4 linked regions of the Homo sapiens genome follow. The protein of the gene in region 2 interacts with the protein of the main gene of each other region in a pairwise test. Each region holds a gene or a part of one and is shown on either strand. Other genes may lie near its edges. The genes, in order: HNRNPH3, SPATA46, alpha-crystallin A2 chain and HLCS.

Region 1 (3,500 bases), on a different chromosome or scaffold from region 2:
TTTTTGCTTTCAGTACATCCCACGCCATCCACCTCCACTCATGCCGCCTTGCCCATAGTAACCTCCACTGCCTCCACCACCACGGCCTTAAGAAAAAGATATTAAGAATCACTCAGCAGGAGATATCTGCATAAAATAATAAAAGTAATACCTGCACTTTAAAGTTTGCACTACATATGCGGACTAACACAAACTGAACTAGAGATACTTACCATAACCACCCAAACCATCAGGAGTACCATATCCTCCACTGTAATTGTTCCCCATTCCCATTCTTCCAACTGATCCATAGCCTCCCTGATTATCTTTAAAAAGAAAAAAGAAAAAAAATTGAGACTCATCGATAAGCAGCTAACCCTGCATATTTTAAAAACTTTACATACCCATTCCATCTCTTCCGTAGCCTCCCATTCCAGAACCTCCCATGCCAGAGCCGCCTCCAGGAGTAGAATTCAAGAAGAGTTCAATATATCGATGTTCTTTAAGAAAAAAAGAAAGAGTAACAGGGGAGAAAGGAATGATGGATAAAATTCATCAATACAAGCTTTGTAAAAAAGATCAATTAAGTAATATTAAACAAAGTATGCTTATTAATTACTAGTACAGCGATATATAAAGCCCACAGAAAGCCATTATAGAGGTCAAATGGTTTTAAATCCCAACAACTGCCAAGCGTTACCTACAGATCTTAGAGCCTCTTATTTTATAAATTCACGTTTAGGAAATAAGATTGTGTGCCAAAGACACCACTTACGCATGTTATTTTTATCTTTAGACATGGCAGCTACTGCATCTTCATGTGTCACAAACTCTACATCTGCTTCTCCTGTGGCTCTGCCATCAGCTCCAATATCAATATGAACTCGTATTGGATTTAGTGGTGAGAAGAACTAAATAAAAGGAAACACTTATTTACTTTTCTATTGAGAATATTAAAGTAAATTACCACATACCTTGATTTTTCCTCATCAATTAAAACAAACCCTTCCACTGCCCTGTCAGACTAATAACTTAGTCAACTACAGAGGTTCTGTGAATATCAGAGTATACACTTAGGGATAATGTAAAGAATTTACTGCTTTTAAAATAAGCAGATAGGCAGGGCGCAGTGGCTCACGCCTGTAATCCCAGCTACTCAGAAGGCTGAGACAGAGAATCGCTTGAACGCAGGAGGTGGGAGCTGCAGTAAGCAGAGATCACGCCACTGCACTCCAGCCTCAGAGAGACAGAGTGGGAGACTGTCAAAAAAAAAAAGCACACAAACACACAGAGAGAAATACGGGATATCATGATTTGGAACTATGCGGTTTGAATAAAGCCACCTATTTAAGACTATATGAAATTGTTCCCCAAAAGATATCATTTGGTTCTAATCACAAGTTAGCCAGGTTTTAAACTATCATTAAAAGCAGTTGGAACTCAGGCCAGCTGATTCCCAGTAAGATCTAGAGCACACCATTGCTTTTAAAGCCAGAGTCAGTACTTTTGGCCTGAATGGCCATTGGGTCTCTAATGTAACCACTCAACAGGTAGAGGAATGGTGTGACCGGATTTAGCCCATGGACTGAAGTTTGCTGACCTCCTAACAAATCTGAAACCAACCAGTTTCACATCAGTGACAACAGCAGCATCTATTCCTGTTATTTCCAACTCCTCAGTTTCTAATCACCATCTAGCCTAGAAAGCCAAACCAAATCACTAATATTTATATATTCACTCTTTCAAACCCTAATACAGGTCAGGCGCAGTGGCTCACGCCTGTAATCCCAGCACTTTGGGAGGCCAGGGCAGGCGGATCATGAGGTCAGGACCAGCCCGATCAACATGGTGAAACCCCATCTCTACTAAAAATACAAAAAGTTAGCCAGGAGTGGTGGGGTGTGCCCCTGTAATCCCAGCTATTCAGGAGGCTGAGGCAGAAGAATAACTTGAACCCGGGAGGTGGAGGTTGCAGTGAGCCGAGATCGCGCCACTGCACTCTAGCCTGGGCGACAGAGCAAGACTCTGTCTCAAAAAAGAAAACAAAACAAAAAACGGTACAACAAAAGACACCAGCACAAAATGGTATAGTCATCACCATTCTATGCTGATCAGTCTTTCATTATACTCTTAACTGGACTTCACGAATGTAGCTTTTTACTTGTTTGAATCCTATGTAGGTTGACACACAATGGATACAAAAATATCCATCAGTGATTAGAATTAAAGGTAGATCTAATTAGCCAGGCGTGGTGGCGGGCACCTATAGTTCCAGCTACTCGGGAGGCTGAGGCAGGACAATGGCGTGAACCTGGGAGGCAGAGCTTGCAGTGAGCCGAGATCACACCACTGCACTCAGCCTGGGGGACAGAGCAAGACTCCATCTCAAAAAAAGAATTAAAGGTAGATCTATTTTTATATTCAAGGGATTTTGGTATTAAGCTATAAACATGAGAACATTAAGAATGCTTAAAGATTTAGACACCAGGATAAGTATAAAACCACTAATAGTTATTAAAAATTACTCACATTAGCAATGTCATTTTCAGTTGCACGAAAAGGCAACCCTCTCATATGTACGAAATGACCACCATGAAAACCTGAACTTGCATCACCAGCTCCACCATAGCCATGTCCTCCCATACCTGGAAAACACAATTTGCCAAGATTATAAACTATTACAGATACAAGTAGGGAAGTATACATACATACTATACAAGGTATAAAGCTCTATATAGGAATGCACTGAAATTTGTCTGAATTAACTTTATACAAGTTTCCTATATTACCACTAAGAGCTTGCAAAGCAAATACTAAAATTTACCTATGAATAAAAATGTCTTTAATATTTATTTTACCTCTTCCATCTCTCATTCTGTCATCAAAGCCATCATTCCCATAGCCGTAATTATTATAGCCACCATAGTCATCAAAACCTCCATAACCTGTGTAATTTAAGGAGAAACACATGACTACACACTTTCCAGAGATAAATTTTATAATTTAGTTTACAAAAACATTTTGTGGTAACAGTCTGTGTAACTTGATTGCAAGTTTGCAATTCCCAACTTAAAACCTATGAAAAAAGCAGTCAACGTGATGGAAATTTAAAATCTCAGAAAGTTAATTAAGTTCAGACATGTAAATTAAATTTCATCCTTAGGCAAAAAAAGGTCAAAATATGCCAACATCTTAATTTTAATTTCTGTGTAAGTTTTCTAGGTGCCAATATGTGCATCAGTCAAGTCCCACAGCTAGCCATGGGAATCCGTATTTTCATGAACAGGTTTTAAAACCTAATAGGTACTGAAATTACTGCCATTTCTGTATTTCTTGACAAAGTGTCAGGAACATTAAGAAAATGACAACAGAACCTTTGTTCATTAGATACACATACCACCATCATATCCATCACCTCCTCGTCGCATTCTGTCATACATACTTCCACGCCCAGCTCCATAATAACCCCCTCTTCCTCCTATTGGTCTATCATATGGTCCCGGTCGCTGTCCCAGCAATCT
Region 2 (8,075 bases):
ACAACATTAAATGTGGAATGTGAAAAACGCCCTGTCTTTAGGGAGAAGACACTAACCACGAGCACCTGGCAGGCGGGATGGGCACGTGCCATGGCACCTGGGCTCAGTCCCTGGCCTGCTTGTTTTCCTTCTCGTGATATGTTCTATGCCTGTTGTACAGATGCCATAGAGAAGGGAGCATGGGGTTGGCAAAGGACAGAGACAACAGTAGCTCGGAGTGAGGATTAAAAAGATTGCCCAGAGCCACTCATCTGCCCTTTCAGGGCACAGGGTCCTGGGAGTGATGTCAGGGCTGCCTGGAGACCTCTGCACACTGGACTGGATAGGTTGTGACCTTGTCCTGGATCCCAGCCCAGCTGGAGCCTGGCAGTCAATTGGACTTTGGGATGCAGGCTGGGTGGGGTTGGGGACAGAATGGGGTGAGAAGCATGGCTCGAGGGCACAGGGCCGCAGTGGTCTCACAGCACATGATGCGATGGGGATCGAGCCCAGCCTCCCTCCCACTCTGTGGGGAACGACCACAAATGAGGTTTTAGCAGCACACTGATAAGCAGAGCAGCTCTGCTAAGCCACAGATAAGACTCTGGAGGAAAAGCCTTTGGGAGGTGAGGGAGGACCCTCCACACCACCTGCTGGCCAAGCCCTGAGGGAGGCAAAGACCAGGGCGGGGGTTTGTGCCAGGGTCCCTGCAAGGCAGTGCCCACTGCAGTGGAGGGGCTACTGAGTCATCAGGGTGATAAAGCAAGAGGTAAATGAGGCCTGAAAGGATGACCAGCAAGCATTTGGTGCTTTTTAAAAACCACATTACAGTCAAGATAGATGTCTCTGCTGCATCCCTGATGCTTATCCATCTTTCTGGGTCAGATGGACCAGGAGGTTCACTCAGAAATGGAGGCAGAGTCAGGGCTGCCCACTGGACACATTACTTGGTAACAGGAAGCAATAGGTTCCCATGTTTACCTGCCTATTTTCACCTGGCTCAAAGCAGCCAAGAAAAGACGTCTCCTGGGTCAAAACTGATTCTATTCTGCCCCAGCACTGGATGGCTGTTCTAAGTGAATGATGGTAGTGCCTGAGAGCTCAGTCCCGGGTGAGCTCAGCCCCATCTGCCTCTTACCTGCCTTATACTCAGAGGCATATTTTCCTCCACATTCCCCCCTCAGAAGATCTACCGTCAAAGAAGCCTTTAAAACTGCAGAGATTCTTCCCCATGCAAATAGGAAAGGGCATCCAGCCCCTTCTTCCCAGGGTGGGGCAAGGACTGACCACATAGGGACCAAGCAGAGGCCAGAATCCTAGAGCAGTGCTTCTCACAGCTGAGCTGCATCAGAGTCACCTGGAGGGCTGGTTAGGACATAGACCGCCAGCCCCAGACCCATAGTTTCTGATTCAGTAGGTCTGAGGAGGGCCTGAGAGTTCCCAGGGGTTGCTGGTACTGCCAGCTGGGCACCTTTGAGAACCTCTATCTTAGATGATTTTCCCAAACTTCAAGTATTGTCTTTATTTTTAAAAGAGAGAAAGGGGAGGGTGTGTGCCTGGTGTTGCTAGGCAACCATTAGCCAAAGGTGATGAGAGCCGGGTTCTGGGAAGGACAGCAGGCTGTGCGGGGTGACCTCAGACTGGACAGAAGGCTGTGACTAACTTTATTGGCATCTCTCTAGAGACATAAGTAGGCTTCACCGCCAATTTGCCTAAGGTGTTCAGCAGGACTATTGAAGGCCTGGCAGCTGCCGGAGGAGAGCCTGTCTCCCAGCCGGGCCTTCTGCTCCTTGCTCCAGAGGGCTTTGAGCTTGCGGTAGTACACCTTGCAGCTGAAGCCCTCCCTGAAGCCCCTCTTGATGTGGCTCTTGAGGAAGTCCAGGGTGGGGTACATGCGGCAGCAGGCCACGCACTTGTAGCCATTCTGCTGTGCTGGGTGCCACCTGGAAGCCATTAGGATGTCCTGGGATGTGATGGAGTCCAGGCCATGCCTGGATTTCTTGGTGGCTTCTCGAGGGCAAGTGTTCTCTGGGGAGGAAGAGGACGAACAGATGTTCTCAGCCATGTCCTCAGAAAGGCAGTTGTCCCACTTGCCCTCATCCTGCTGCACCTCTGGGAAGTCATAGGCCTCCAGCTGGCTCTCTTTGTCTGCACACACGAAGTAGCTGTAGGGGGAGAACCAGGGCCGGTAGATAGTGCAGTTCCGCCTCAGCTTCTCTCCGTGCTGGGTATCCCCCAAGCTGCAGTCTGCAAAGGAAAGGACCAGGTCTGAGTCTCTGGCAGGGAGCAGTGGAGCCAAGGATGCTGGAGCAGAAAGGTAAGAAGGCAAACATCAGGCATGACCTCGGTTACCTCCACCCCACCACGATTGCAGTTCTGAGAGCAGACGCAAGACAGTGGTAAGAGCAGCCGAGGGCATTCCTTCTCACTGCATTCTTTTTCTAGGGGTACAAAGGGCCGTTGGATCTTGGGGCAGGAGAGGCTGCTTTTAGTTGGTAAGCCTTGGTATTTGTCGAGGCCTTCCCCTCCTGGAGACACCATGTCCACTGACTCCTCTAAGGATAGACACAGACAGGTGACCCAGCGGATAGCCAAACCGGCGGCCTCCCACAGTCCCTCTTTTCGCCACCCATGGCTGTGACCCTTTTTTCAGCCTCACTGCTCATCTTGATCCCTCCACGGCCCACTCAGCCAGAAACTGCTCTTGCACACCAGTTTCAGAGACAGGAGAGGGGAGGCAAGGCGAGAGCCCCAGGCCTGTGGGTGTCTACCAAAGGAAGAAGGGCCAGATAGGAGGCTGCAGGTGACAAGACCGCGCATGGGGGTCCAGCTTCCAGACACCTCTGCTTCCTTAGGGAAGCAGCCCCTTTTCATCCTTAGCCTCTCACACATTCCCGCCCAGAGTCAGAGAAGTCCTCACCTGGTGAGAGCGCTGTGTTCTGTATCCCTTGCCTGACAATGATGCTTTGGTACTGGGGTGGCAGGGCCTGAGCTGGGCTGGATGCCTCAGTGGGTACTGCTGTCTTTGCAATGTCTGGGTTATAGAAGAAACACTGGTGAGCTGAGCAAGGTTGGGATTCCACTTTCTGGGACTCCCCCAGGCATACCTAGGGGCTCAACCTCTGTACTTCAAGGCATCTCAACGCTGAAACAGAACAGTGACCTCTCAAACTCAGCCAGGCAGAGCTATTCTGGATGACATCCTGGGGAATTCTGAATGGGGCCATTTCATTCAGGCCTCAGAAAGATCCTCTGGAAAGTGGGATTTATGATGTAGCCCAGATGACACCTCTCCGCCTGGCCTGCCCCTCACCTAACCCTCCTGCATCTCATCACGCGGATGGCTTCACTCCGCATTGCCAGTCTCCTGAGCATCCTGGGACCCAGAGTCACAGGCTGCAGAGCAATGTTCCATGCCCGCTTTGAGGATTGTCCAGTTGAAACATCTCATACCCACAGTCAGGGTTCCCGTGGGCCATCACTGCACGGCACACCCTGGAGTGCTAACACTTGGACAAAAAGCTGACCTGCCTCAAATCCCAGAATAGCAGCTGTGTTCAGTTTGGGGGACAAATTTATAAATGTCATATATGTAGACAAATGGATGCTTAGGAGGCCTACTCCACTGAGCAGTACTTCTCCATTTTACTGTGCATAGAGATCCCCTAGGGATCTTGTTAATAACACAGATGCTGATTCAGTGGATCTGGGGTGGGAACCTGAGATTCTGCATTTCTAACAAGCTCCCAGACGATGCAGACGTTGCAAGTCTAAGGACCGTATTTTGAACAGGGAGTCCTCAGGGTGTCCAACTTTATTCCATGATGTGCTCATCAGTTTACGCTGCTGCTTAGGCTTCTCTGATTTGGCTAACTCCAAATCCTCTCCAAACTTGTCAAAACAGAGCTAAAACTAGTTTCTACTCTATGTAGACATACTGCCACCTTGAGATTTCATGCACAATCTAGGGGGAAAAACTTGATGATAAATGGAGACTGAGGCAGGAGAATCACTTGAACCCAGGAGGCAGAGGTTGCAGTGAGCCGAGATCACATCATTGCACTCCAGCCTGAGCGACAGGAGTGAAACTCTGTCTCAAAAAAAAAAAAAAAGTTTTCCCCTTTCTTCCCTTACCAAAAATCAATACACAGCAGTAACTACTTACCACAAATGCAGCATTTTGAAAAATTATTTTCTCCCCATGCGTAATTTGACTTTCTCACTAAATCATGGTCCTGTAACATGATCTGGTAGGGTACTCAATTAAAAGCTTCAAAAAAAACCACATCTTTGTGGCCCTAGTGGCACCAAAGTTTACCTGGCAGGCTGGTGGCACGAGAGAACATAATGTCGGGAAAAGCACTCAGGGCGGAGGAAGAGATTGGAGGTCCAGAGATGCTGAGGAGTGAGAAGTTCTCCATATTCTGACCACTGCGGGGGTACAGAGATCACACGCCTGCTCTGGAGAGGCTGGCTGGTTTGTCCAGAGGATAAACATTCTGAGCACAGTTGATGTCACAAGGCACATGATTCCACTACCAACTAGGTTACCCTTTGGAAGATGAATGGAGTCTACTGAAAGCAAGATTAAAATGTGTAAAGATTGTATTTGACTTGCCATTGCCCAGTGGCAGGCCCTGATTGACAATACCCAGAGAGAAGAATGTAGTAGAGATACTGTAGTGATGCTGTCTATTTGTCCCCTTTTATCTTTGTTATCATCAGTTTTCTGTGTTGACACTGTCTACCCCCAGCCCTCCAGCCCTGGAAACCTCTGTCCTGTCTGAATAATCTCCTTCCTTTTCTTCTCCTTTATCAGCCTAATCTCTGTCAGCAAATATTTTTATTGTTTTGTTTTAGTTTGTTTTTTGAGGTGTATATATTTTTCACATTTTCTTTGGAAATTCAAATTTGTAAAAGTTGCAGAAATTAGGCTGGGTGCAGTGGCTCAGGCCTATAATCCCAGCACTTTGGGAGGCCAAGGCGGGTGGATCATTTGAGGTCAGGAGTTCAAGACCAGCTAGACAAACATGGTGAAACCCCATCTCTATTCAAAATATAAAATTTAGCCATGCGTGGTGGTGGGTGCCTGTAATCCCAGCTACTTGGGAGGCTGAAGCAGGAGAGTCGCTTGAACCTGGGAGACAGAGGCTGCAGTGAGCTGAGATAGCGCCACTGCACTGCAGCCTGGGTGACAGAGCGAGACTCCATCTTAAAAGCTGCAAAAAATAAAATCAATACAAAGAACACCCTTATGCCCTGTATCCAGATTTTCCTATTAACATTTTACCCCATTTGCTGTATCCGTCCCCTTCCTCCTGCCCCCTGCCCCATGTGTATGTGTATATACTTAATTTTTTCTGTGAACTATTTGAAGGTAAGTTATAAACACTATGTCCTTTTATACCTAAGTACTTCAATGTGTATTTCCTAAGAATAGGGGCCAAATATTGTTTTCAGTGGTTGGTGCTCTTTTTAGCAAGTGACTAAAGCACAAATGGGTGGCTTACTCAATACTATTTTGCTCATTGCTTAAGTCAGTTTGATGGGGAGACTCTGGGACTCCAGAGAGGCAAGGTTGCCTCTTCGTTTCGCTTGTCCTATAACAACCTTGTGCACTAACGAGGTGTGGAATAAGGTGAAAGATGATTGTGACACTTGGAAGATAAGCTGAAGACACCCCTTTCTAGATTATCACAACATGTCAACTAGATACAGAGCAGGGCTGCAGATCTAGATGGCAGGTATGTTTATGCTGCATGGGGAGCTATGGCCGCTCTGGAAATAGTGATGGGCTTGTTTTGCAGTGCTGTCGAGCATGTGTGAGTGAGGTGTGAGTTAGCTTCTGCACGTGAGAGCCCAGAGTTGTCTTCCTGTGTGTATTTATTCACGGTACTGAAACATTCGAAGGACAATGGGAGAACATGATTCCCCTCGTGTTCCTCCCAGATAGCCTGGTTTGGAACATTAGCATGTATTGGAAAGTAAGTTGAAGCCACATACTTTGGCAGTTTGGGGGGTATCAGCAATTTCATTTGGTCCATTATGGTGTAGAGAAAGCTCATGAGTCTGGGCATCAGCTTATGTGACTTCTAACCCTGCTCCGCCATGAGCTACCTGTGTGATATTGGGCAAATCTCTCTGCTACTTGGTTTACCCATGTTATTAGTTTAGACTCTAAACTGGAATGGATGAACATCTTCCTGGCTAAAACCCAGTGACTGACATGTGGACAGTAGCATACTTGTGAGTGATGCACACAGGACCCCGAGGACTTGGAATTGCATTCTGTCTTGACCCATCACATTTCTCCGACTGCCAACTTCAGACTCTCCCACTGCAACCTCAGACTTAAAGTAAAGGGAGCTTAAAATACTGGGGGGAAATATGGGAGGCAGAATCTCTCAGTGCCTGTGTAGAGTTTTTAAAATGCGACCCGGTTTTGGTTTAGTCACTGAAAAGTTTGTGGGAGCCTGGCGGTTCCAGGGTGCACACCACTCCTCGTAGCAGGTCCCCTGTCTTGTGTGCTGTGTCCCCCCGAGGTATGCTGGTGCTGGTGGCCCAGGCAGGAGGTGACACTCTCAAAGTGACTGGTCACTACGTAAAATGTGTCTTTCTTTTGTTTGTTTCCCACCTGCTTTCCGAGCCCCTTTCTCGGACAGGTAAGATATCCTGTTTTTTTGTGGATGACTTACATCCCCAGATGCCCTCCTCTGCTTGGGTGTGTGCATGTTGGGGGGTACTGTTGGGAGGGCCACCTGGCTGGGGTCCAGTCATCTCTCTGTCCTCCATTGCCATTATTTTCTGAACCATCAAGCCTCTAGTCCTGAAGCAAGAGAGATAATGTGTGGGGGTCATTAGCGTCATCATCAAGAAAGGGACCCATTGCACATCCTCAGACATAGGGATAAAGGGACCCCCCAGCCAGAGCCCCACTTTCACTTTGAATAGAAGGGCAGTTATCCGGGTCTGACCTCAAGAGCCCCTGAAGACCACTCCCATAGAGGGAGTTTTGAGTGGTTTTTATAAATGGAAAAAGACTTGTGAGCAGTTTCCCTACAATGTCAGTCCATCATGCAATTTTTAAGAATTCATATAAAAGTCAAATTCAATTAAACAAACTTATTAAATGCCTACTATCGTGCAAGACCCTAAGCTGGGCATTGTAGAAGATAAAGAAACACTTCAGGAGCTATGGCCCTCAAGGACCTTACCATTTTAAGACAAGGTGTATTTACTGGAAAGACTTAGACAAGGGTAAAGGGAGTGCATGGTAGGCTATCTTTACATTACTTAAGAATTCAGTGCGTTATAGACTATGTTATGAAGGGTAGAGAGCAAAAAATACAGGAAATCCAAAATGGTGCATAATCCAGAGTTCTGTTTATTACAAAGAGTGTTTTAAAAATAATAATAGCTTATAATTTACTAATCACCTTGACAGGTGTTTTTGGTGCTTGCCTTTTTAAAAACGAGTATGTCTGCTCTGAAAAGTCACTTTAAACCAATAAGGAGACCACCAGGGAAATGTCTGATTTGGGAAGTGGTGGCAATTTGCCTTCCCCGGGCATTTCGTACAGTTTCATTGTTGTCTATGTACTTTCTGGTTTGGGGGGAAATAGTTAAATGGTTTGGTTTCCAAATCTTCTTTGCTAGTTTGCGGATGACGTGATTAAAGAAAATAAGAAGGATGTGGGACCTGACAGGCAAATTGTGCCAAAGTGGATGATGTGGCAAGATACACACTTAGGAGAATCATCAGGAGTTGATGACCCTGCTTGCTGTGGAGCGGGCTGGAAGCTTCTGCTGGTGTGGTGGGTCTATCTGGAGCCCAGCCAGCTTGGGCCCTGTGTCCCAGGGATGCTGTCATGCTGTTCCCTGGCAGGTCCTCACCCTGCAGTGGTGCAGGCCACAGGGCTCATCCGCAGAGAGTAGTCTCCACTTCACTTCCCACAGGTTTTCCTCCCTGCCACCCAAAGGCCCTTAGAATATGGCATACCTAGGTAGTTGGCCTAGAAAGGATAGCACCACTGAAACCACAAGAAAGGTTTTCACTGGCCCGGGATACAGCAGTGCAGGGCAGAAAGAACTGCTTT
Region 3 (7,352 bases), on a different chromosome or scaffold from region 2:
TGTGTCCTCATCTCCTCTTCTTACAAGGACACCGGCCAGACTGGGCCAGGGCCCACCCCAGTGACATCACTTCAATTTAATCAAAGCCCCCACCGCCAAACACAGTCCCATTCTGAGCCTTTGGGGGTAGGACCCCATATAATTTTCAGGGAGTCACCTTCCAGCCCCTAACAAGGTCCAGGCAGGACCCGCAGTCAAGCAAGGCTGCAGGCGTGAGTGACAGCTCCATTCACTGTGCAGCCGGTGGGACGGGACCCGGAGCTACCAGATGTTGCGGTGGGCCCGCCTCCCTGCAATGGCTGCCAGGCTGTGCAGAGCAAAGGTGTCCGCTCAGCTGGTCCGGGACAGACCCAGGAGGAGCAGGGAGCCCCAGACACCCCGATTTTCAAAAACATCCAGCCGCAGCCCCAAAGCACAGTGGGTCATGTTGTTGCCAACCACAGGGCACCCCCTTCTGTACAAATGGGGACTCGATGGCACAACAGCCGGGCAGGTCCTGCTGGAGGGAGGAGGAGGGGGGGAGTCTAGGGGAGCCACTCCCAGGACTCAGAACCCGTCACACCACGGCCTGGCCAGAGGAATACAAAGAGAGACAAAGGGCATGGTGTGTTGAGGGGTGTGTGTGTGTCTGTGGTGTGTGTGGAGTGTGTTGTGTGTGGAGTGTGTGGTGTGTGTGTGTGGAGTGTGTGGTGTGTGGAGTGTGCGGTGTGTGTGGAGTGTGTGGAGTGTGCGGTGTGTGTGGAGTGTGTGGAGTGTGTGGTGTGTGTGGAGTGTGTGGTGTCTGTGCTGCGTGTGGTGTGTGTGTGGAGTGTGTGGTGTGTGTGTGGAGTGTGTGGTGTGTGGAGTGTGGAGTGTGTGGTGTGTGTGGAGTGTGTGGTGTGTGTGGAGTGTGTGGAGTGTGTGGAGTGTGTGGTGTGTATGGAGTGTGTGGTGTGTGGTGTGTGTGTGGAGTGTGTGGTGTGTGTGGAGTGTGGAGTGTGTGGTGTGTGTGGTGTGTGTGGTGTGTGTGGAGTGTGCGGTGTGTGTGGAGTGTGTGGAGTGTGCGGTGTGTGTGGAGTGTGTGGTGTGTGTGGTGTGTGTGGAGTGTGTGGAGTGTGCGTTGTGTGTGGAGTGTGTGGTGTGTGTGGAGTGTGTGGAGTGTGTGGAGTGTGTGGTGTGTGTGGTGGGTGTGGAGTGTGTGGTGTGTGTGGAGTGTGTGTTGTGTGTGGAGTGTGTGGAGTGTGGAGTGTGTGGTGTGTGTGGAGTGTGTGGAGTGTGTGGAGTGTGTGGTGTGTGTGGTGTGTGTGGAGTGTGTGGAGTGTGTGGTGTGTGTGGAGTGTGTGGAGTGTGTGGTGGGTGTGGAGTGTGTGGTGTGTGTGGAGTGTGTGGTGTGTGTGGAGTGTGTGGAGTGTGGAGTGTGTGGTGTGTGTGGAGTGTGTGGAGTGTGTGGTGTGTGTGGAGTGTGTGGAGTGTGGAGTGTGTGGAGTGTGTGGAGTGTGTGGTGTGTGTGGTGTGTGTGGAGTGTGTGGAGTGTGCGGTGTGTGTGGAGTGTGTGGTGTGTGTGGTGTGTGTGCTGTTCAGTGTCCGTGGCACGTGATGTCACTGGGCGTCACTATGGCCGCCCACGCTAATGCCTGTTGCTGACTTTTTGAAAACCCGGTGGTGTCAGTGTCTGTGTTCTCCCGGGTGGAGGCTGCGCCCCTGTGGTCGTCCTGCTGGTGCCATGGGGGTCCCAGTGCCTCAGGGTCCCGGTGCCTTCGGCCTCCGGGGTCGAGGGCGCTTTACTTGGCTGAGGGCGCTGGCAGGGCCCACCCGCCGTGGCGTCTGCTTCCCCTTGGGTGCCCTCTGGCCCCCCGGATGCCCCTCGGTGAGCGCAGCAGGCAGCCAGGGCCCCCCAGGCCGAGTCTCCCTCCCCGTGGCGGGGTCTGGCATGGCCGCCCAGTGTCTGGTCCCGGGAGGGGACAGAGCGAGCTTCCGCCTCCAGCTCGGGGCCATGATGGGTTGCCCAGGGGAAGCTGCCGAGTTCCAGCTCCTCAAAAGCACGAGTGCCCTTAAAGCCCAGCCCCGAAGGCAGCAGGACCCCCGAGAGAACAGGACGACCCAGCAGACCCCGAGAGAACCGGACGGCCCCGCAGAAGGAGGCCAGGGCTGGCGTCCCGCCCCGGTGCCGGCGCGGACAGAGAAAGGAGCCCGGCCTCCCTCCATTCCCTGCAGCCCCTTCCAGGTCCCTCCCCGCCCCCAGCTCTCGGAACCGCTCCCCAGTCCCTTTCCCATCAGAGGCTCTGCCCCCAAAACCTCTCCTTCCAGCCCAGTGTGGAGGGAGGCGCTTGAGCTCAGGAGAAGGAAGGGACGCAGGCGACCCCATCGTTCCGAGGCCACCGGGTCCAACGCGAGCAGGAGACCCCGCTGTCCTCCCTCCCGGCGCCGCCCTCCTGCCCCTCGCGCCCCTGATGGAGACAGCACCAGCAGACGGCGGGTTGCTTGTATCACCTGCTGTTTATTGATTGCCGCGGGCTGCGCTCTCATGGGCGACCCATGTCCCCAAGAGCGGCACTACATAGAGGGGTTGGAGGAAGACGGTCTGAGAGAAGAGGCCGCGAGAGCCCAGGTGCACAGAAGCCCCGGCCCCACGGGCCTCACGCGCCCCAGGAGGTGTGGGCAGGGCCCGCCGCGGAGGGAGGCTGCAGGTGTGTCAGGAGGCACCTGGCCGGAGGTCACCCCCTCCTTCTGGACCCTCAGCAGAGTTGAGGCGCCTGCACCCCAGGGGAGCCAGGCTGCTATCTAAAGGAGTGTGAGGTGCGGTCACTTCCGCCACTGGCCGGTGTCGGGGTCTGGGACACCCTGAGACCCTAAGCTCTCCTGGCTGCTCTCTCAAACCCTCATTCCATGTGAGAAGGTGGAAAGGAAAAAAGGGAAGCAAAGGAAGACAGACACCCCGCCCTCAGGGTGCTCCCCCCATGATGGGCCAGGGCTGCAGGGGAGCCAGCCGAGGCAATGCCTGCTTAGGACGAGGGAGCCGAGGTGGGCTTCTCCTCCCGCGACACGGGGATGGCTCGCTCGGCGTGGGTGGCATCCAGGCCAGTCTGGATCTTGGGGCCACAGAAGGTCAGCATGCCATCGGCAGACAGGGAGCAAGAGAGGGCCGACTGGTCCACGTTGGACGGCAGGCGGTAGCGGCGGTGGAACTCACGGGAAATGTAGCCGTGGTCGTCCTGGAGAGGGTGGGGGCGCACAGTCAGGGGGGCCACTGTGCAGGCGGCTGCCTCGCCCCATGCCAGAGAAGCTGCCCCAGCCCCACTGACTGCAGAAGGGGGCCAGCCTGCGGGGGCTCTCACAGGGGCCGGGTGCAGCCAGCACATCCCATGGCCAGGCCCCCTGGGATTTATGGATTCATGCCCCTGCTTCTCTGGACCTCAGCCTGGCCTCGTGGCCACTTGCCGGGCTATTCCCCGCGGGGGGTTGTCTCTTCCCGCTCCATGGCTTCACTCCAAAATCGCAGGATCATTCCAGACCAGGCCCCGCACCTCAGCCAGTCTTCCCCTTCCAGACCCCGCAGGACTGCTCTAGCCCAGGTCTCTGCAGCCCTACCTAATGTGGCCAGACGACCCACATGCTTCCACGTCCCCTGGACGCCCTAAACCGCAGACTCAGCTCCCTGGGCTGACCTCCTCCTCCACTGGGTGCAAAGACCAAGAGCTGGGAGCTCAGGAAGCATGTTCCAGGCTGGCTGGGGCTACGTGGGGGCTTTACCGGGCCCAGGCGAGGGAGGGGCAGCACATGAGGAGGTCAGCGTTCACCCCCCAGCACCACCTTCTCCAGCCATTGAAAGAGGACCCTGGCCAAAAGAAACCAAGACTTTGGCTAAGAGTTCCACCTTCCAGCCCCACTCTGCTCTCCAGCCCCCGCGGGGCACTGTCCATCTGTGACAGTCCATGAGCTCTTCCCGGCTCCGCCAGGAGATGCAGGTCACCAGGGCTCCAGTGCCCCGGCTCCCTCAACACCACGGAGATCCGAGGCCTCCAGCCGAGCAAGAGCGGGGCATCAGGGTGACTGTGGGGAGAAGCTCCCGTCCACCTGCCCGGTACTAGCTGTGGGACCCAGCAGGCTGAGGACCCCCTTGTTCCCCAGCCGTGCCCTGGAATAATGAGGACACTGGTTCCAAAGTGCTGCTGTGAGGCGAAGGTGTCAATGCCTGTAAAGCATTCCAAGCGGATGCAGCTATGCCGTCGGGGACTGGCTTCCTCAGGTAGGGTTCATGTGAAGATGTACACTGGCTAGGAGGCGGCCACCCGGGGCACTCCCACTTCCTGGGGTTCTTTCTAAGACCACCCTGGCATCCAGGTGACAGGGATGGAGCTGGCGACGGCTGGGTGCAGCCCGGGAAGGGACCCTAACCTGGATCCCTGAGCCACATTAGCTCGGGAATGGTGACCTCTGTCACCGGGAGGGGCTGGCTGTGCTCAGGTGGGCACGGCCCCTCCCTTGGGGAAAAGCCAGGCCTGATTCGGGGTCCCCTGGAGAGCGTCCCTCTCCCAGGGTTGAAGGCATGGTGCAGGTGTGCAGGCCCGGTCGTGCCCGCCGTGACCCCCTTGTCCTCGCGCCCAACTCGCCCCCCTCTCCCACCTCTCAGTGCCTGGGCTCACCTGGCGCTCGTTGTGCTTTCCGTGGATCTCCACAAAGTCGTCCTGCACCTTCACGGTGAGGTCCTCCGGGGAGAAGTGCTTCACATCGAGGAAGATGACGAACTTGTCCCGGTCGGATCGAACCTGAAATCCAAACGTGCCATGTGGAGCTGCCCAGAGGGTGCCGTCCCTGCTGGGGTTGGCAGAGACAGGGCGGGTCCCGGTTATCAGAACAGAGATGCTTCGGTCACCTGCCGGCCTCTTCTCCCACACACCAAGTGGGGCAGAGCTTTCGGGGGCCTGTGACTGTCTCCTGGACAGACAGGCATGACCCTCGACCTGTCTCCAAACCCTCAGGGCCAGCTGAGGGGCTGAATGCTACTGGTGGGCCGGCTGGTTGTTTGGCTATGGTCAGGTGGCTGGTTATAGATAAGTTGGCTGGTTATGGGCTGGCTGGCTACTGGTTATGGTAGGAGGGGTCGTTACGGGTTGGTTGGTCCGTTAGGGTCAATCGTCTGGCTGGTGATGCTTGGCTGGCTGGCTGGACTCAGCCTGTGGAATGAGGTCACTGCCCTTGGTGTCATGCTGTCTATAGAAGCGGCCGGAGCCTGCTGACAGCCTGCGCAGCTGCCTCTCCAAAACGCACTTCCACATGCTCCTTCTCACTCCCCTGGCTCAGCCTTGGCTCCCTGAGGCATTTTGCACCCTGGCATTGATGCCTACTGCAGCAGCCCTGGGGAGGACCCTGTTTATGAGGTGCTGGGTGGGACTCAGGCCCTCCAGAACAGCAGAACCTGCACCGCTCACCCGTGGCTCAGAGAGGAGGCCTGTGGTTGGGTGGGGGGGGGGGGCGTCCATTGCCTGTCCTTTTAGCCTTGGCAGGGCACCTAAGTAAACTTGCCAAGAGCTTTGCTAGCCGTGGGCAGGCCGAGCTCATTGGAGGAGGTGCTAGGAACGCCCTGCTCTCTGGCTTTCAGGACTATGACCCCCACCTGCTCCCAGGTCTCCGGGACTCAGGAGACCAGAGGAACCCGGGAGCTGGCATTCGCCACCACGCATGCCTGGATGGGCTGCTCTTGGGGTTTCCAGTATGTGGCTGGTGCCTTACAAAGCACACATGGGTCATGAGCTGATGGAGGAAAGCAAAGGTGGATTCAGGCTGCTCCCTTGTCCACCCTCTCCCCAGTGCCAGGGGAAGCTCTACCACGTGGCTGCAGTGGGGACACAGGCTCTCGCCCAGCCTCTGCAAGGGGATGAAGTGGGACGAGGCCACCTGCCTGACGGAGCAAGACCAGAGTCCATCGCTCTCCACCCACCGAGGCCACCACCCTCTGAGCAGCGAGGAGAGGCCAGCACCACGGGCCACGTCTTACCTCAGAGATGCCGGAGTCCAGCACGGTGCGGAAGAGGGACTGGCGGTAGTAGGGGCTGATGGTGGACGACAGGAAGGGCAGCAGGTCATACTCAAAAAGGCCCTCGCCGAAAAACTGGTCGAACAGCCGGCTGGGGTAGAAGGGCCCCAGGGTGCGCTTGAACCAGGGGTGCTGGATGGTCACATCCATGTTCAGCTTTGGTACCACGGGGACCTGGAGGCTGGCAGGAGTCAGCGGGGCCTCTGGGCAGCGCAGTGTGGAGCCAAGGCCGAGCCCTCCCTATATATGCCACCAGCAGAATGGAGGCATTAAGGGATTTCTCTGGAAAGGCGTGAGCTCATGAAGAAGGCTGCTCAGTCAGCAGAAACGTGGCTGGGACAAGTGCCCGCCCCCAGCCCCAGGAGGGGCTGCACGGACTGTCCCCGAGGCCTGGACTCAGCTGAGGCCCGCCTGGGCACCCTGGGGCTCCCGGGAGGGCAGACAACCCAAGGAGGCGCCTGTGCCCCATACTCGCCTGGGGCGACAATGGAGCTTCTCATCTGCCAGTCACTGGGCAGGGGCTACGTGCCAGGGACCATGCTAGTTCTCTGCACACCTTGTCCTGCCGGGGTGGTCCTCATGGTCGCCAGAGGAGGGAGAGCCCACACCCCCGTTAGACACAGAGGTTAGACACATCGTCGTCAGAGTCTCACCGGGCCTGGGCAAGAGTGCACTGGTTTCCAAAGCGGAGTGCATCTGTGAACCTCCGTTACACTCACCACTTACAAAAGTACGCATGCTTGTTAAAACTCGTGGAGAAGAAGCTGCAAGGTGCCATAATTCCAGCACCTGGGGGAGCCCTATGGCGTTTCATGCTTGTCCTCCAGGGGTCACATGCCTCCAACAGGAAGACGGGCTGGGCTGTGGGCAGATGAGAGCACCACGTGGTGAGCTTCCCTCTGCGGCCCACCCTGGACGCCCAGCCCCATGGCCATCATCCCCTCGATGTAACGCCTCGAGCGTTACATCTCGTAATGATGTAATGCCTTGATGTAACATCCCCACGTAACGCCTCGAGCCTCCGTGGCATGACCTGCCGTGGCTGTTGAGTTGGGCTGCTCCTGTCAGGGTGGCGACATGTCCCCACGTCCCTGTCACCCATGCGGACCCACCACCCACATGATCCTGTTATCCACAAGTCCTGGTGATTATTTTGCTCCTCGACCCATGGCCCCTGTCCAGTTCTCACTAAGTGTCCAGGCACTCCCGGTTTTGTTTGTTTGTTTTTGAGATGGAGTCTTGCTGTGTCACCCAGAGTGGCGCCCAGATCATATAGTGGCGCGATCTCAGCTCACTGCAACCTCTGCCTCCCAGGTTCAAACAATTCTCCCACCTCAGC
Region 4 (7,458 bases), on a different chromosome or scaffold from region 2:
GGGAGGCAGAGGTTGCAGTGAGCTATCACACCACTGCACTCCAGCCTGGCGACAGAGCGAGATTCCATCTCAAAAATAAAATAAAATAAAATAAAAAGTATAGGCCAGGTGCAGTGGCTCACACCCATAATCTCAGCACTTTGGGAGGCTGAGGCAGGCAGATCACGAGGTCAGGAGATCGAGACCATCCTGGCTAACATGGTGAAACCCTGTCTCTACTAAAAAAATACAAAAAATTAACCAGGCGTGGTGGCGGGCGCCTGTAGTCCCAGCTACTTGGGAGGCTGAGGCAGGAGAATGGCGTGAACCTGGGAGGTGGAGCTTGCAGCGAGCCGAGATGCGCCACTGCACTCCAGCCTGGGCGACAGAGCAAGACTCAGTCTCAAAAAAAGAAAAAAAAGTATAGCACAGACAATTACATACAGTACACAGTACCTGATAATAAACAACTGTTACTGGTTTATGTGTTTTCTATGTTTTCTATTATTTTAGAGTGTACTCCTTCTACTTATTAAAAAAACAAAACAAAACAAAACAAAACAAAAAAAACAGCTGGGTGTGGTGCCTCATGCCTGTAATCCCAGCACTTTGGGAGGCCGAGGCGGGGGGATCACTTGAGGTCAAGGGTTTGAGACCAGTCTGGCCACCATGTGAAACCTCATCTCTGCTAAAAATATAAAAATTAGCCAGGTGTGGTGGCAGGCACCTGTAATCCCAGCTACTTGGGAGGCTGAGGCAGGAGAATTGCTGGAACCTGGGGCCGGAGGTTGCAATGAGCCAAGATAGTGCCATTGAACTCTAGCCTGGGCAGCAGAGTGAGATTCTGTCTCAAAAAAAACCCAACAAAACAGTTAACTGTAACAGCCTGAGGCAGGTCCTTCAGGAGCTACTGTGGGGGAAGGCATTGTTATCACAGGAGTTCACTGCTCCATGCACGTTACTGCCCGTGAAGACCTTCCAGGAGGACACATGTGCAGTGAAAGTCAGTGATACTGATGATCCTGACCCTGGGCAGCCTAGACTAATGTGTGTGTTTCTACGTTAGTTTTTAGCAAAAAAAGTTTAAAAAGTAAGAAACAGGCTGGACATGGTGGCTCACAACTATAATTCCAGTGCTTGGTGAGGGCTGAGGTGAGAGGACTGCTTGAAGCCAGGAGTTGGAGATCAGTCTAGGAAACATAGCAATTTGTATGTTCACAAATTTGTAGAGATAAATAAATGAAAATAAGAATAAAATTTTAAAAACAAAATTTTTTTTTAAATATATAAAATCTTAGAAAAAAGCTTTTAGAATAAGGATAGAAAGAAAATATTTTTTACAGCTGTACAATGTGTTTGTTTTAAGCTGTTATTACGAAAGAATCAAAAATTTTAAAAAATCAAGTTTATAAAGTAAAAATATGATAGTAAGCTAAGATTAATTTATTATCGAAGAAGAAGGCTGTTATAAATTCAGTGTAGCCTAAGTGTACAGTGTTTATAAAGTCTAAAGTAGTGACTGTTGTGTCCTAGGCTTTCACATTCACACGCCACTCACTCACTGACTCGCCCTGAGCCACTTTCAGTCCTGTAAGCTCCATTCATAGCAAGTGCCCTAGACAGGTGTACTGTTTTTTATCTTTTATACTGTATCTTTACTGTGCCTTTTCTATGTTTAGATACACAAATACTTACCACTGTGTTACAGCTGCCTACAGTATCCAATGCAGTAACATGCTGTACAGGTTTATAGCCTAGGAGCAATAGGCTACCCCATAAATCCCAGGTGTAAAGTAGGCTACAGCATCTAGACTTGTATAAGTACACTCTATGATGTTTGCATGATGAAATCACCTAAGGACGCATTTCTCACAATGTGTATCTGTCGTGAAGCAACACATTAACTATAATGTATACGAATTATGTAAGTGTTCAAAAACGTGGTGTCTGTTAATCCAGACAACTTAAAAATCTAAAAAGAAACTGGGAGGAGGGGTAGGGGGAGTCATGAGGAAGGAGCAGGAGCAAGTAGATGGACTCAGGGGGTGGGGAGGCACGTGTAGTTCTAGCGGTGAGTTCATGGGTATTTATTGTATTATTTCAAATCCACAGGTGAATGAGATCCATGCATAAACCAACGATGAGAGTACATTTGGAACAAGGAGTATGGTTAACCCAATTCTGTGTACCTAGAGTCCTAAAATGAAATGAAATATTTTAAGATATTTGAGTTTGTAGGCCAGGTGTGGTGGCTCACACTTGTAATCCCAGCACTTTGGGAGGCCGAGGTGGGCAAATCACAAGGTCAGGAGATCAAGACCATTCTGGCTAACACGGTGAAACCCCATCTCTACTAAACATACAAAAAAAATTAGCCGGGTGTGGTGGTGGGCGCCTGTAGTCCCAGCTACTCGGGAGGCTGAGGCAGGAGAATGGCATGAACCCGGGAGGCAGGGTTGGCAGTGAGCCGAGATCGTGCCACTGCACTCTAGCCTAGGCAACAGAGCGAGACTCCGTCTCAAAAATAAATAAATAAATAAAAAATAAATAAAAGTCCAAGGAGCCAGAATGGTGGCTCATGGCTGTATCACAGCACTTCGGGAGGCTGAGGCGGGCAGATCACCTGAGGTCAGGAGTTCAAGACCCACCCTGGCCAACATGGTAAAACCCCGTCTCTACTAAAAATACAAAAAATTAGCCGGGTATGGTGGCAGGTGCCTGTAATTCCAGCTACTTGGGAGGCTGAGGCAGAAGAATCGCTTGAACCCAGGAGGTAGATGTTGCAGTGAGCCAAGATTGCACCACTGCAGTCCAGCCTGGACAACAGAGCCAGACTCCGTCTCAAAAAAAAAAAAAAAAAAAGCCCAAGGAATTGGTTACTGATAGAATCTGGAAGTTTGTCCCCTCCAAATCTCACGTTGAAATGTAATCCCCAGTGGTTGAGGTGGGGCCTGTGGGGGAAGTGTTTGGGTAATGGGAACAGATCCCTCATGAATAGTGTGGTGCTGTCCTCCCTATAGTGAGTGAGTTCTCACAAGACCTGGTTGTTTAAAAATGTGTGGCACCTCCCCCAGCTCAGTCTCACTCTCATTCTTGCCATGTGACACACCTGCACCTCTGTCACTTTCTGCCATGACTGTTCCTCAAGGCCCTCACCAGAAGCACATGCTGGCACCACTCTTCCTGTATGGCTCGCAGAACCTCTTCTTTATAAATTATCCAGCTCCAGGTATTTCTTTATAGCAATGCAAGAACTGCCTAATACAGTTACCATATGACAAGGCCTCTTTGTAGTTCAAAAAGAAAAGCCAGATATTAGCAATTTCATGTGATTTGACCTACTTGATTATTTAATTTATATTTTCAATAAATTCAAAATCATTTTTAAAATAAAAATAAAGTTTATGAATCGTCTTTTCTGCATATGAAAATTAGCCCTGAATTGGCTGGGCGCAGTGGCTCATGCCTGTAATCCCAGCATTTTGGGAGGCAGAGGCAGGCGGATCACGAGGTCAGGAAATCATCCCGACTAACATGGTGAAACCCCGTCTCCACTAAAAATACAAAAAATTACCTGGGCGTTGTGGCACGCGCCTGCAGTCCCAGCTACTCGGGAGGCTGAGGAAGGAGAATGGCATGAACCCGGGAGGCAGAGCTTGCAGTGAGCCGAGATCGCGCCACTGCACTTCGGCCTGGGCAACTGAGCAAGACTGCGTCTCGAAAAAAAAAAAAAAGAGGCCGGGCGCGGTGGCTCACGCCTGTAATCCCAGCACTTTGGGAGGCCGAGGCAGGTGGATCCCAAGGTCAGGAGATCGAAACCATCCTGGCTAACATGGTGAAACACCGTCTCTACTAAAAATACAATAAATAAATAAATAAATAAATTAGCCGGATGTGGCAGCATGTGCCTGTAGTCCCAGCTACTCGGGTGGCTGAGGCAGGAGGATGGCGTCAACCTGGGAGGCGGAGCTTGCAGTGAGCCGAGATCGCGCCACTGCACTCCAGCCTGGGCGACAGAGTGAGACTGTCTCAAAAAAAAAAAAAAAAGAAAGAAAGAAAGAAAGAAAATTAGCCCTGAGTTCACCAAAACCGTCGTATCAACAGCTGGTCGTCTTCTACCAAACATAAGAGACACAAGTACTGTTTGACTGGACCTAGGTTAATAAAAGCTTTATTTTGGAATCTCAATGATCTAGATCTCTTTAAAACCATTAATTCGTTCTCTAGTTACTAGAAAGGATAGAAGCATTGGTTAAAATCTTATCTCTCACTTAGCAGCTGGTTAAAACCTTGTCTAGGCCGGGAACAGTGGCTCACGCCTGTAATCCTAGCACTTTGGGAGCCTGAGGCAGGCAGATTGCCTGAGCTCAGGAGTTCGAGACCAGCCTGGGCAACACGGTGAAACCCGGTCTCTGCTAAAATACAAACAATTAGCTGGGCGTGGCAGCGTGCGCCTGTAGTCCCAGCTACTTGGGAGGGTGAGGCAGGAGAATTGCTTGAACCCGGGAGGTGGAGGTTGCAGTGAGCTGAGATCGCACCACTGCACTCCAGCCTGGGCAACACAGCAAGACTCCATCTCCAAAAAAAAAAGAAAGAAAACTTTGTCTGTCACTTAGCAATGATATTCCTATCACTTTAGGAATGTCATTTAATCTTATAACCTAAGTTTTCTTATCTTCAAAATGGCAATAATAATAATGATAATACTTTGTAGAGCCGTTAAGTATTAGTGATGACAGCTGCAGCCAGTCTGGAGCAGGGTAGGCGCGGCCAGGGATACGCGCTCTGTGGAACCAGGGGGAGCTGGGAGCAGGCAGGAGCCCTTCCCGCTTCTGAGTTGGCAGGGCAGGAGCCCAGTGCTCCCAGGCATAACTGCAGCCTCCCAGCCACAGCTGCGGACCTGGGCATCCCTGCACTCTCAGGGGTCCCAGAGGCCCCCGCTTCCCCACAGGCTTGGAAGTGCCTGATCCCGCTGCCTGGCCTCTTCCTGCTCCCTGTGCCCGCTCTGATTCTGGAGCAAAATTGAAGCTGAGCCTGGGCGGTGTCGCAACCCGGCCAGGTGGGTGCTGCTCAGGATGGCGCTGACACACCAGCCCCCTGCCACCTCAGCCCCCCTCTAGACTTTAGGAGCCACTCTGGACCACGAGGATGGGAGGGAGGCCGAGGAGGGGCTGAGGACGGCTGGTTGCAGGCCTGTAGGCACCCCTCAGCACAAACAGCCTGGGCACCTTGGACAACATGACTGACAGCAGAAGGCAGACAGGCTCATAGGTAGAAAGGGGCGGGTCCCTGGTGACGCCCTGCCTTCAAGCCAAGACCAGCCCAAAACCTGGGGACCTGGCTGTCAGTTCCAGGTGAAGCCTGTGGCCCAGAGTGAGAACTTAGAGTGCTTTTTCTGGCCCGCCCATGGCTGCCCATGGACCAATCAGCACGCGCTTCCTCCCTTCTGAGCCCATGAAAACCTCAGACCCAGCCAGACTCACACAGAGGCTGGGACTACCAGCTGCAGAAAGGAGCTACCCACTTCAGGTCTCCTGAGAGCTGTTCTGCCACTCAGTGAAGTTCCTCTCTGCCTTGCTCACCCTCCACATACCTCATTCTTCCTGGATGCAGGACAATAACTCAGGACCCACCGAATGGCAGTACTAAAAGAGCTGTAAGACAAACCAGGGCTGAAACATGTCCCCGTACTCACTACATTGCAGGCAACAAGAAGGAGAGAAGAACTGTGGCCCTTTAAGAAGCCAAGATCTAGGGGCTCCCCAAGCCAAGGCTGTAAACACCCTCTTTGGGGCTCTGCGGTTCCCAGCGTCTCCATGCTTCCAGGTGCCACCATGTTCCCCTTGTCCAGACACAGGTGCCCACAGCAAAAGCCTCATTCAGTACACCTGGTCCAGCCACAGCCTTGCATGGAGCCACCCACCCCCCCCCCCCCCGACCCTGCACTTCTCACCCACACACCCCTTGCCGCTCTGCACCCAGCTTGCCCCTGGTAGGTGTGCAATCTGAGCTGGTAGAATGAGCTGAGTGCAGCCTGCCAGGCCAAGTGGGTGGAATAAGACCAGTGGGCACAAGCAATACTTAGGCAGAAGGCACCGCTAGCCACAGAGGTTTCTGTCTGGTGAAACGACACCCCAAGGATCCTGTGACATTAGGGGTAACGTTTATAAAATACCTAGCAAGGGCTCAATAAATGGCTTATTATTATCATAAGTGTCTACAGGGCTAAACGAAACATTACAAACCTTCAGGAGAGAACGTACTGTCTTAACACACTGCACTGCTCCAGGCCCATCTGCCTGATGCTCTGCCCGCTCCAGGGCCCCCATCAGAAAGTCTCTCGCTATCCTATACTATCTGCACCTGCCTCCCCTTATTTTGGTTCACCCTGAATTCCAGTCAATTACTTCTTGTTTACTTCCCCATTTTTCTTCTTCTCTCAATACAGCATCTTACAGATAATCTTCATGAAATGGGAATCCAGTAAACATGGCTAGCATCAGCAAAATCCCCACTGGATGATCTACATAGCAGGGAACAATGGCGGGTGAGGACCCACAAGTGAGGGGAAGGAAGCTGCAAGGGTACACTGGGGTCAGACCTCCAGGAGCCTCAGGGCATGGACTGCACCTGGAGGGATGACATCCACCAAAAGCTTATGCAACACTGTCCCAACTGGATGTGGGTCCAGAATGACTAACTCTGGCCATCAAGAGGAATGCCCAAAGAAGGGACATGAGACAGGGTATTTTCACAGCTCAGACAAAAGATAATGAACATGAGGATGGAATGAGGAGCAGTGGAGATGAAGGAGAGGAGCTAACAATTTAGGGAGTGCTGTTACAACTCATAACTTCACGGAAGCGAGGAGGAGGTGCGAGGAAAAGCCGGCTGGCGTGTTAATTTGGGATTTTCTCTCTTTGAAGCAGAAGAATACAAACACAACTCATTTTGGACATGTGGCTGAGGTTGAAGTATTTTCAGAATACTCAAGGAAAGACGTTTAGGACGTAGGTGGTGATATACCCCAGCCACTCAGGTTGATTTAGGAAGCAAGAAATTGTAGGAATGGATGAGATGACCTGAGAGAGAGTGCTGCTCAATAAAAATATAACGTGAGCCACAAATACAAGCCACACACGTGGTTTTAACTTTCCTAGCAGTGACCAGGCGTGGTGGCTAACATCTCTAATCCAAGTATTTTGGGAGGCTGAGGAGGTAGGATCCCTGGAGCCCTGAGTTTGAGGCTTCAGTGAGCTATAATGACCACTGTACTCCAGCCTAGGTGACACAATAAGACCCTGTCTGAAAAATAATAACAATAAATTTTTCTAGCAGCCACATTAAAAACATAAAAAGAAACAGGTGAAAATAATTTTACTAATATATTTAACCCAAAATATCCAAAGAGAAAGGGAGCCACAAAGGCTAGGAAAGAGCACTCATAAAAAGACAAATTTGAGGCCGGGCGTGGTGGCT

Evidence for each region.
Region 1: the proteins of SPATA46 (region 2) and HNRNPH3 interact in binary tests that used the Homo sapiens proteins (3 or more experiments, as listed by UniProt).
Region 3: the proteins of SPATA46 (region 2) and alpha-crystallin A2 chain interact in binary tests that used the Homo sapiens proteins (3 or more experiments, as listed by UniProt).
Region 4: the proteins of SPATA46 (region 2) and HLCS interact in binary tests that used the Homo sapiens proteins (3 or more experiments, as listed by UniProt).

The regions. Positions count from the first base shown.
Region 1 is NC_000010.11:68,338,564-68,342,063, reverse strand, and holds part of HNRNPH3 (heterogeneous nuclear ribonucleoprotein H3), read right to left. Parts: coding exon 3,377-3,500; intron 2,925-3,376; coding exon 2,838-2,924; intron 2,625-2,837; coding exon 2,509-2,624; intron 953-2,508; exon of another isoform or gene 891-952; coding exon 755-890; intron 480-754; coding exon 384-479; intron 306-383; coding exon 213-305; intron 87-212; coding exon 10-86; 3' UTR 1-9.
Region 2 is NC_000001.11:162,372,391-162,380,465, forward strand, and holds SPATA46 (spermatogenesis-associated protein 46), read right to left. Parts: upstream 4,465-8,075; 5' UTR 4,401-4,464; coding exon 4,298-4,400; intron 3,014-4,297; coding exon 2,900-3,013; intron 2,227-2,899; coding exon 1,658-2,226; 3' UTR 813-1,657; downstream 1-812. UniProt on the Homo sapiens protein: Plays a role in spermiogenesis and fertilization.
Region 3 is NC_000021.9:6,559,594-6,566,945, reverse strand, and holds the end of alpha-crystallin A2 chain, read right to left. Parts: intron 6,875-7,352; 5' UTR 6,164-6,874; coding exon 5,975-6,163; intron 5,027-5,974; exon of another isoform or gene 4,931-5,026; coding exon of another isoform or gene 4,853-4,930; intron 4,746-4,852; coding exon 4,623-4,745; intron 3,192-4,622; coding exon 2,982-3,191; 3' UTR 2,457-2,981; downstream 1-2,456. UniProt on the Homo sapiens protein: Contributes to the transparency and refractive index of the lens. In its oxidized form (absence of intramolecular disulfide bond), acts as a chaperone, preventing aggregation of various proteins under a wide range of stress conditions.
Region 4 is NC_000021.9:36,954,231-36,961,688, forward strand, and holds part of HLCS (biotin--protein ligase), read right to left. Parts: intron 1-7,458. UniProt on the Homo sapiens protein: Biotin--protein ligase catalyzing the biotinylation of the 4 biotin-dependent carboxylases acetyl-CoA-carboxylase, pyruvate carboxylase, propionyl-CoA carboxylase, and methylcrotonyl-CoA carboxylase.